Regions from separate parts of the Homo sapiens genome. Here all the other regions are linked to region 1. The links come from fine-mapping of genetic effects on gene expression. A gene starts in region 1. Each other region holds a variant in brackets. All regions are shown on one strand. Distances are between the middles of the regions. Region 1 holds the start of EPHA4 (EPH receptor A4). Region 2 overlaps EPHA4 (EPH receptor A4). Region 3 overlaps EPHA4 (EPH receptor A4). Region 4 overlaps EPHA4 (EPH receptor A4).

Region 1 (2,760 bases):
AAGGGGAAGGGAGGCCTCATTGCTAGGAATCAGTGCCCCTGCCAGCGCCTGGGGAAATGCACCGAGTGGCGTTGGGGACCGGTCCCTGGGACACCGGCTGCGCTGCCTTCGCCGGACCGCTCTTAGGTGGCCGCGTCCACGGCTCGGGCATCGGGAAAAGACCACAGCCCGATGGTGCCAGTGCCCCCGGGGCCGGAGCAGCCGGGCGGGGCTCTGCGGGTCCTCCTGCTCGCCGTCTTCTCCCGGGGCAGGGAGGGCTGCCCCGGCTAGGTCGGAGCGGAGAGTCGCAGCAGCCGCTCCGGGCAGCTTCCCAGTCCCGGTCTGCCTTGTCTGTGCGGCTGCAAGTCCCCGCACCCACACTTAAGCCTTTCACTTCTACCCCACCGCTCCCAGACGGGCTAGGCCCGGTTCCAGGGACTGCCCCCAACCCTGCCCCCGGGAAATCCACAACTGGTTCCCTGCCCAAGGCCATCTCGGGGCGTCCTGGGCCCTGGGCGAGGTCCACGGCGTGTGCAGGGGGACGGGGCCAGCGGGGACTTCCTTACTGCTAGAAAGTCATTCGTTCAGTCTCTGGAGACAGTGACGGAGCCCTGCTGCGGACTGGACGTTGGGGACCAAGTAGGTCCCCGCTCTCCAGGCATCTGGGGAGCCAGGGAAGAAGCGAGTGATAGAGCCACAAAACTCCCCGCAAAGAGTATTTCAGAGGGGGAAGCGCCATAAAGACAAAACAGGGCAAGGTGGCAGAGGGTGGCGGTGGCAGGCGCGAGTCTGCAGCTCAGCCCGGGCGCGCTGGACGCAGACACGTCGACTCTCCTAAAGAAGCAACCGCAGGTCAGCTTAGACTTCTTTTATTTCAATAAAAGAGCGTTTTCCTCCATCTTAAACCGCCCGTGGTGGGAGAAAAGGTTTCCAACCTCTTCTCTGGCTCCCCTCGGTCAATTCCGAGCTTTTCCAAAGTCCCTCCGCCGTCCAGGGGCTCGACCTTCGAGGTAACGTGGGGGATCCCGCTGGCTCCCTCCGGCAGGCGGGGGCGGGGACCGGCCGTGCTCGCCCCCTAGAGCCCCGGGAGACCGCGCGCCCCGTGGAGCCCGGAGGGGGCGGAACCCTGGGGCGGGCCCTGCTCGGTGAAGGCGGGGCTCGGCCGCCCTGTCTGCGCCGCCATTGGCCGCGGGCCCCGGACTGGCGGGCTCACGTCACCGGCCGGGCCCGCCCCCTTGGCAATGTCTTCAGCCCGCTGCTCTCCTAACTTAAGCATTTATTCCACTGGGATAGAAGCGGCAGGAGCAGCGTTGGCACCGGCGAACCATGGCTGGGATTTTCTATTTCGCCCTATTTTCGTGTCTCTTCGGGATTTGCGACGCTGTCACAGGTTCCAGGGTATACCCCGCGAATGAAGGTAAGAGCGGGACGGCCTTTCTGTGGTCGGGGACAGCGAGGGGCCATCGCGGGTGAGGGGTCCTCAGGAGCGCAGGGCCAGGTGGTGCGGGGGGAGCCCAGTGTGAATGGTGCGTCCCGATTCGGGAGAAGGGGGCTGAGGCGAGGGGATCGGCGAAGGGGCAGCGGGGAACCGCCGGACAGCCTGCCCCGAGGCGGTGACCCGTGCACGCGGCGGGTCTGTCCAAGTTTGTAACCAAAGGCCAAAGTTTATCAGCATCCGCCAGAGAGGCCCGCTCGAGGCGCCCTGAGGGGATGCACGGGAGACAACGCCGGGATTTAAAAAAAAAATTACAAGAACCACGTCCTCTCCTGAGCCAGCCCGGGGCGAGGGGAAAACGCAGCCTGGAGCACAGTGAAGGCTTGGTGCTCCCGGATTCTAGCGAAAGCCTTTCGAGCTCTGGTTTCTGCAAAGTTTCCCGAGCCCTGCGCTTCTCGGGACCGGGCTGCGGGGCCTGCTCCGCAGCGCAGCGGTCGTGGCGCCGCTCGTCAGGCGCCAGTGACCTGATTTCTAGCACCCGGAGTCAGACACCTTTCTCCTCGCCAAGCCCAGCGCCCCGAGGGTGCGATTGCGGGCCTGAGGGGCCCGAGCTCTTCGCCCCGCAGACTTGGGGAACCCGCCGGCAAGTTGAACGCAGTCGAGTTTTAGCTTTTCGCCCCAGAATTGCACACAGTTTAGAGCTAACGTGCGGGGTCGACGGGACCCGTCTGGGTGCTCAGTTTTCTGTGCATCCGTTCGGACGTGCTGGGAGGATTGTATGTGCCTGTGTGTCTGTGTCGGGAGGTGGGGCGGGGCGGGGGGGCGGTGATCATTTAGTTTCTGAGAAACCCAGGGAGAGGCGAACTGTGTGTGTGTGTGTGTGTATGTGTGGTGTGTGTGTGCATGTCTGCGTGTGTGTGCATGTCTGCATGTGTGGTGTGTGTGCATGTCTGCGTGTGTGTGCATGTCTGCGTGTGTGTGCCTGTGTGTGTGCGCGCGCGTGCAACTGCGTGTATGTAGGTGCGCGAATGCCTGCGTGGAAGCGGACGCGGAGGATTGTATGTCTGTGCGCAGATGTCCTGAGTGTGTGCGCGTGTGTTCGAGTGTATGCTCGTGCTCTGTTCCAGCGTATGCTGGTGCTCTGGCCTGCGTGCATCTAGTCTCACATCCGTCTCTCATTCTTCTCCTTTCCGGCATCCATCTATCTATCCGTCCGTCCATCCGTCTATCTATCCATCCATGCATCCATCCATCTCTCCGTGCATCCGTCCGTCCGTCCATGCATCCATCCATAATGCATCCATCCATATATCTGTCCGTCCGTCCGTCCATCCATCCCTCCATCC
Region 2 (2,500 bases), 81 kb after region 1:
ACACTAATATATGCCCAAGTGGAAGGCTTGAATAATCTGCCAATGCCATTTAGCCAGGTTATTACAATTTTTCTACCACCCTGAATAATTAAGAGTGGCTTGTCATTGACCGAGTCCTGTCATTTCTGGATGCCATTTTTGACACTATGCATGGAAGTCATACAGTGGTTATTCACAGCATGCTTCTATGAAACAAGGTTAATTACACATTTTTCTGAGATCCCCTGGGGTGAGAACGGGGTATCTTCTTTTTTTCTTTTTTTAAGACAGAGTCTCACTCTGTCTCCCAGTGGTGCAATCTCAGCTCACTGCAACTTCCACCTCCCAGCTCAAGCAGTTCTCCCACCTCAGCCTCCCAGGGTGCTAGGATTACAGAAACGAGCCACCACACTCAGCCCAGGGTATCTTCTTTGCTATCAACATTTAGATTTATGAGAGATTCTGCTATAGAGATATAATTGCCCCTCGCCCTATTCCTATGATCTTCCACCTAGAAAAAGAACCTTTAATAGAAACTCCTAGCCACTCTCTTGCACAGAAGGTAGGAACAAGGCAGAAAAGATAATCCCCATGAAAATGATAAAAGAGGATCATCTGGGAAGTAGTACTAGCTAGCCATCATCATCATGAAGGGCAGGGAAGTGAGGTGAAATTGAACTCTGGGGTGAACTGAGAAAGTTGGAAACTTTCTATCCAATTCTCAAAAAGAATTTGTAATTATGGGTTATTATTTTCTTTATATTATTTGTATCTCTATGAAAGGGAAGCAGGGTTGTTTAGCCTTGGAGTCAGGGTTTCTGATCACAGCTTTGCGCATGTTGGCTGTCTTAATTTTGGCAATTTGCTTAACTTATCTTAGTTTTTGGCGATCAGATTGTTGTGAACAATAAATACTTTTCTGTCAGATTTGATTGCAGCTGTTAAATAAGATACAAAAAAGTGCTTTGCAAGGAAAGTAAATTAATGCACAGGCTAGATAATTTTAAAAATGAAATACTCAATTCTACTTTTCTTGGTCTTTGGCGTGGTAGCTTTCTTGTGTATAACTGAGAATTTATAAGGCACTTCAGCCATAAACAAGTCATCCTAATAAAAAGAAACCAAACCCCTAATTAACCCAGTAAAAAAAAGACAAAGATCACTGGAGAGGAGAATGGGAAAGGAGATAGAACCAGAAAAATAGGTTATGGGAAAGTCTCACAACAAGAAATGAACCTCTATAGGAAGCCAAGAATTTTTCATGACAGCAGCAAGTGATTGATGCATCCAAAAGGTTCTGGTTTAATCATGGACAGCCCTGCTTGGCTGTCTTTGTTGTAAAAACACATAAACCACCATGATAAGAGGTTATGCACTGTTCATATATGTCAGGAGGGATGTCTTTAAAACAGCCATCTTTATGTAAACTAACCCACAGCAGATAGGACTGGGAGAAAGCAATTAGTGGTGGCAACATATACAAATGTCAGGGGAAGCATGGGCTTTATTTCAGAGTCAAAACGTAATGCATCC[C/G]AACTGTTGACTCTTCCTTATAACCTGTCTTTCAGCTGGAGAGAGATTAACAACAAAGGCTTATCTGAAGGGTTGAAGGGTTTTACAGCTAAGACGCTGAAGTGCTATTGACAGTCCAAAAGTTGTACATGATTAATGAAGCCTTAGGAAATGGAACTACAGACCCAAGGTGCTGCTTCCTCCAAGATATGTGTTGGACTGGTTGCCTTAGCATTTTAGTGAGGTGACAGCAGTGCTTAAATACATCGATCATGGGAGAGTTACCTTTCTGCCCATGCTCTTGGGGGATGCTCCATTTCCCATCCAGAATGAATTTCATAGCCCAGGCATTGAATTTTAAAATGGCGATTAAAAATCAGTTAAGTATTAGATGTCTGTGATAGCTCTGGAAACTACTCTATCACATGAGACCAGAGACTTTGGTTTTTCTATCAACTGTCTTCTTGCCTTGGTTGCAGACTTGATTTTCTTTCTTTCTTTTCTTTTTTTTTTTTTACATTTTAGCATGTGATTGCCATTTTTTCTCTCTTTATTATTATTATTATTATTTTGCTTAGCTTTTGTGACATACAAAAGTGCTATGGCAGTGGGTTTTTTTTTTTTTTTTTGAGACAGGGTCTCAATTCATCACTCAGGCTAGAGTACAGTGGCATGATCCCAGCTTATTGCAACCTCCACCTGCCAGGTTCAAGCAATCCTCCCACCTCAGCTTCCCAAGTAGCTGGGACTACAGGAACATGCCACTACACCTGGCTAATTTTTATAATTTTTGCAGGGACAGGGTTTCACCATGTTTCCCAGGCTGATCTTGAACTCTTAGGCTTGTCAAGCCTTCCACCTACCATGGCCTCCCAAAGTTCTGGGATTACAGTCATGAGCCACTGTGCTCAGCCATAGTGCTATGGTAGTGATGCTTCTGATTAGTGAGCTGGACTGGGCTAAAGCATCATCATTCATTCATTTGTTCATTTAGCAGATATTTATTGAG
Region 3 (2,500 bases), 73 kb after region 1:
ATATTTTAGCTTTGGCCGGGAGCGGTGGCTCACGCCTGTAATCCCAGCACTTTGGGAGGCTGAGGTGGACGGATCACCTGAGGTCAGGAGTTCGAGACTAGCCTGGTCAACATGGTGAAACCCCGTCTCTACTAAAAATACAAAAATTAGCTGGCATGGTGGGTGGTGCCTATAATCCCAGCTGCTTGGGAGGCTGAGGCTGGAGAATCACTTGAACCCAGGAGGCAGAGGTTGCAGAGAGGCGAGATCGCACCATTACATTCCAGCCTGGGTGACAATAGCAAAACTCTGTCTCAAAAAAAAAAAAAAAAAATATATATATATATATATATATATATATATATATATATATATTAGTTTTAGTTATCATTATGACTATTATTATTTTGTTTCCTAACTACTATAAATGGTATTTTGGCCAATCTGGAGCTAACAACCCTGCAAATAAAAGGTTTTTGGGTATTTGAGCACTTTGGGCCACTGGGCAATCAAGTCCTGTCTTTAAAATGAGTGGAGTGAGTCTCCAGGTCTCTCTGACTTTATATTCAAATTGCTGTAACCTCCAGAGTTTCTTTCATAATGAGAGATAATAATGATGATGATGACAATTTTATAATTATGCCCAGGTAATGTATTAGGTACTTGAAAAAAATCTTAATACGTGGTTTATAAGAAATCTGTTAGGTAGGTATAATCTTTATTTTATAGAAAAGGTAACTGCAAGCTCAGAGATGTTAAGGAACATGCTCAAGATCACACCCTACCTTGGACAGAGTTGTACAACCTGAAGACTCACCTAGTTTCTATTTTATATTATTATTATATTTATATTATTATATTTATATTTTATATTATTTCTATTTTATATTATTCTATTATAGAGAATCTGGGAGATTCTCTTGCTGGCTCTCCCAAGTCAAGCATAAACATTCAGAGTTAGGGAGAATCCTAGGGTCAGTCTCAGATGTAACTGTTAAAAAGGTTAGATGCAGTAGCTCAGGCCTATAATCCCAGCACTTTGGGAGGCCGAGGCAGGCGGATTATTGAGGTCAGGAGTTCAAGACCAGCCTGGGCAACATAGCAAAACTCCGTCTCCACTAAAAATACAAAAATTAGACAGGCGTGGTGGTGTGAGCCTGTAATCCCAGCTGCTCAGGAGGCTGAAGCAAGAGAATTGCTTGAACCGGAAGGCAGAGGTTGCAGTGAGCCGAGATTGCACCACTGGACTCCACCCTAGATGACAGAGGAAACTCTGTCGTCTC[AAAAAAAAAAAAAAAAAG/G]AAAAAAAAAATAGCCAGGACTGGTGCCTTTCACCTGTGGTCCCAGCTACTTGGGAGGCTGAGGCAGGAGGATCACTTGAGCCTGGGAGGTCAAGGCTGCAGTGAGCTGCATTCACATCACTGCACTCCAGCCTGGGTGACAAAAAAAGACCCTGTCTTAGAAAAAAAAAAACGAAAACAGAAAAACTGTAAATAGGCAAGGATTGTTTTTGCTTTCTTTCTTTCCTGTTCCTCCATAGACTAAGAACTTTCTCTGCGTGGCCACTTTTGTTTGAACTCTTCAGTCCCAACCTTTTTCTTTTCCAATGTAAATATTTTCATGCTATGTTCCATTTGTGTGATTAGTTTAATAATAAACTCCCCATCTTTATCCACACCTGCTACCAACAATTTTCTTGTAGGAATCTGGGGCACAATAGTAAACTCAAGGGGAAGTGTTTGAGGCTGACATTTTGAGGATGGCCCTCAATTTGCATCATGTACTCCCCCACTTACTTTCCATGCAGATAAAGCCTTCTCTAGGTTGAGATTTGATTGTATTATGAGTGTCATGAAATGTATCTCTGATGGCAGGAGGTCCTGGCTCTTTCTCCCAGGTATTTTTCAGTCTCATGATGCTGACCTGTTTAGCATTTAAGGGGACCATGTGCCCATCACTTTATTACCAAGTCTTGCTACTTGGGAGTTTAGGAAACCTCCAAAGATGGCCATATGTCTGTGTTGCTGGAACATTTGATGTATGTGTAATAAGGCTGTGGTAGTTGAGCCCTTGGAATTGTATTTTTAACTGTTAGCTTTATCTTAAGGATGCAAAGGGGAAGAAGAGAAAATTTGATTTTAGCATATGGATGGACCAAAAAGTCTAAAAATTAAAGTAACATTTGCATGTTTCAGAAGTCATTTTCCACAAGGTGAAGGGAAGGAAGGCTGGTGGCTTTTTGTGTCATTGTTAAAAGGTCCATGAAAATACCTGCTCTTGGAACTCCTTCTCCTACACTTTACTACTTCAAGGTCTTGTGCATTACTTTACTTACTTATTTTTTCATTTTTTTTTTGAGATGGAGTCTCACTCTGTCACCCAGGCTGGAGTGCAGTGGTGTGATCTCGGCTCACTGCAACCTCCACCTCCCGGGTTTGTGATTCTCCTGCCTCAGCCTCCCGAGTAGCTGGGACTACAGGCGCCCACCACCACACCTGTTTTTGTTTTTGTTTTTAGTAGAG
Region 4 (2,500 bases), 130 kb after region 1:
AAGGAATAGGAAGATAATCTTCCCCTGGAGTTTGACTATTCCTAAGGTAATGCCCACGGTTTCCAGTGTTGAAGGTGGGGCCTTTGCAGGGAACCACCCTCTTCTACCCAGTATTTCCCTGCCGCCTGTCCATATCATTCCTAGTGAGCTACGATAGTACCACTGCACCCCAGTCCAGGTGACAGAGGCACCTGGACTCTATTTTTTTAATAGAAACCTGTCTCTACTTAAAAAAAAAAAAAAAAAGAAAAGAAAAGAAAAAATGAGACATTAGGCCTGGGGCAGGTGGCTAGTAGGACACAAAGTACAAAATCTTTAGGAAGAAGAAATGAGGTGGTTACTAAAATGGGAGAGAAAGTACACACTATACAGTTCAGGGGTCCTCAAACATAAGAATCTTCTGGAAAGCTTGTTAGGACAGTTTCTTGGGCCTCCTGCTCAGAGGTTTGATTCAGCAGGTGGTGTGCGGCCCGTAAGTTTGGAGTGCAAGAGAGCTCACCACAGGTGAAGCCAATGCTGCTGGTATGGGAATCACGCTTTGAGAACCATTGGCCTGGGGACAAACGACCGCATACCACCTCTGCTGCTTCTAAAGCTTGTGACCTTGGACTACTTGTTCAATCTTTCTCTTTCAGTTTTCTCATCTGTAAAATGGAGGTAAAAAGAGCATTTGCCTTATAAGGTTATTTTGGGGATGAAATAGAATACTTAGAGTGGTTACCACAATAGCAAATTTTTTCAGAAAAAACCTCGTACGTGTTCAGTGGTGCTATTATGTCTTAAGAAGTAGGTACATCTTTCCCCATCTTCAGAATCTTTCAAAAAAAAAAAAAAAGGAACCTTGGTGAGAAGGATATATAATTTTCCGCATAAGGTGAAGGCTATAATTAGCATAGAATAGCTCTATTTGCTTTTTGAGATTAGTTTTACAGACAGGATATTTTTCTGTTGCCTGTGGCCTTCAGGGCCGCCCAGAGCCCTTCACTACTTTAATTAAAAGATAACATTCCCTTTAAATACTTTTGCAGGTCCGTTTTCTAAAAAGGAGGCTCTGTTCAGCTTAGGGTGTTTTTCCTGTCGCAGACAGTGATTTTCCTAGCACCTCTGCAGAAGAGAGAAGAAACAGGGGATCTTTGTATTAAAGTCCCACCGCGCCTCTAAAACACGTAGCTATTACAGCTGTAACTGTTATAAACGACTGGATGCATTTGCATAATGCAGTTGTCACTGAATTAAAATGATTTAAAATTTCTATTGGAGAAGCTATTCCCTTCCCCCACCCCTTTCCTCCCCACTGCATCCCTGCCTACTGCAGGGAAGGAGACTCCTCTATCCAAGAGCCCAGCCCAGGCCTATTTTATAAGCCCCTTTGCTTATGGAGACATTCATCTTTGTTTCCCTTGTAGAGCTCATAAAGGATCTGACAAATGGATACTTTTAATAAACAGAAAATGGAATGCAGAAAATTTGTGAAGATGGTGCCAAGAGTCCGACTA[G/A]GGAGGTGTGAGGGTGAAAGGGTAGAGTGGAAGCGTGTGAATTCATTACCAGCAGTTACTTGAGTAACTTTTTAAATTGGCAGGAGGACCATAAATTCTCCGCATGACCCTCACTTTTGGATCCTCTCCTGTCGTCTCCACAGCTCCAGAGGGATCTGGTGAAATGCAAGGAGGTGTTAATGCACAGCCATGAGAGGCTGCCCTTTCTCGTTAGTTGACAAAGTATCTTTTGATTGAGGCAGGTTGATTAAAACTCATTTAGGCACATTTGTTCTGTCAGAAGACTATGGTCACAAGCTGGGCTCGGTGGCTAGTGCCTGGAATCCCAGCTACTCAAGAGGCTGAGGCAGGAGGATCCCTTGAGCCCAGGAGTTCAAGGCTGCAGTGAGTTATGATCATGTCACTGTACTCTAGCTTGGGCCACAGAGCCAGACCCTGTCTCTTAAAAAAAAAAAAGAAAAGAAAAGAAATTCACCCAGGCTTGAGTGCAGTGGCACGATCTTGGCTCACTGTAACCTCCGCCTCCTGGGCTCAAGTGATTCTCCTGTCTCAGCCTCCCGAGTAGCTGGGACTACAGGTGTGCACCACTGCATCCGGCAATTTTTTTTTTTTTTTTTGAGTAGAAAACCCTGGTCACATATGTAGAGGGTAAATGAATCTGAGAACTAAGCATTTCCTATTTGTATTGATAGAGAATGTGCAGACACACCCCTGCCAGCGTAGAGAAAAGACTTAAAAGTGGTTTTATGCACCTTTGGTCTGCACCAAGATTCCCACTTTTTCTACCAGCCTTCTTTCCTCACTTGAAAATAAAATGTCCATGGTACCATTTTCTAATGCAAAAGTGTTTGCCTCTGAGTAATTTCTTAGACACAACACCAAAAACTCAAGCAATCAAGAAATATCACAAATTGATATATTGGACTTCATGGAATTAAAAACCCACTCTTCAACACTTTTGCCCCTAAGGTGAAAAATTTCCCCATGCCCTATATGCCAGAAAT

The links.
Region 2: its variant is fine-mapped to the expression of EPHA4 in whole blood (INTERVAL, PIP above 0.99).
Region 3: its variant is fine-mapped to the expression of EPHA4 in whole blood (INTERVAL, PIP 0.97).
Region 4: its variant is fine-mapped to the expression of EPHA4 in whole blood (TOPMed, PIP above 0.99).

The regions. Positions count from the first base shown.
Region 1 is chr2:221,570,794-221,573,553 of GRCh38, reverse strand. It overlaps EPHA4 (EPH receptor A4), which reads left to right and starts at 1,250. Exons shown (of 18, transcript NM_004438.5): 1 at 1,250-1,396. The coding sequence starts at 1,306. RefSeq lists silencers at 1-274, 875-1,294.
Region 2 is chr2:221,489,766-221,492,265 of GRCh38, reverse strand. The region is part of intron 4 of EPHA4 (EPH receptor A4); the gene reads left to right. Among named protein-coding and RNA genes, the nearest start is that of EPHA4, 81 kb to the left of the region's middle. The variant C/G (reference allele first, on the strand shown) is at 1,513.
Region 3 is chr2:221,497,570-221,500,069 of GRCh38, reverse strand. All of the region lies in intron 4 of EPHA4 (EPH receptor A4), which reads left to right. Among named protein-coding and RNA genes, the nearest start is that of EPHA4, 73 kb to the left of the region's middle. The variant AAAAAAAAAAAAAAAAAG/G (reference allele first, on the strand shown) is at 1,263.
Region 4 is chr2:221,438,944-221,441,443 of GRCh38, reverse strand. All of the region lies in intron 11 of EPHA4 (EPH receptor A4), which reads left to right. Among named protein-coding and RNA genes, the nearest start is that of EPHA4, 130 kb to the left of the region's middle. The variant G/A (reference allele first, on the strand shown) is at 1,497.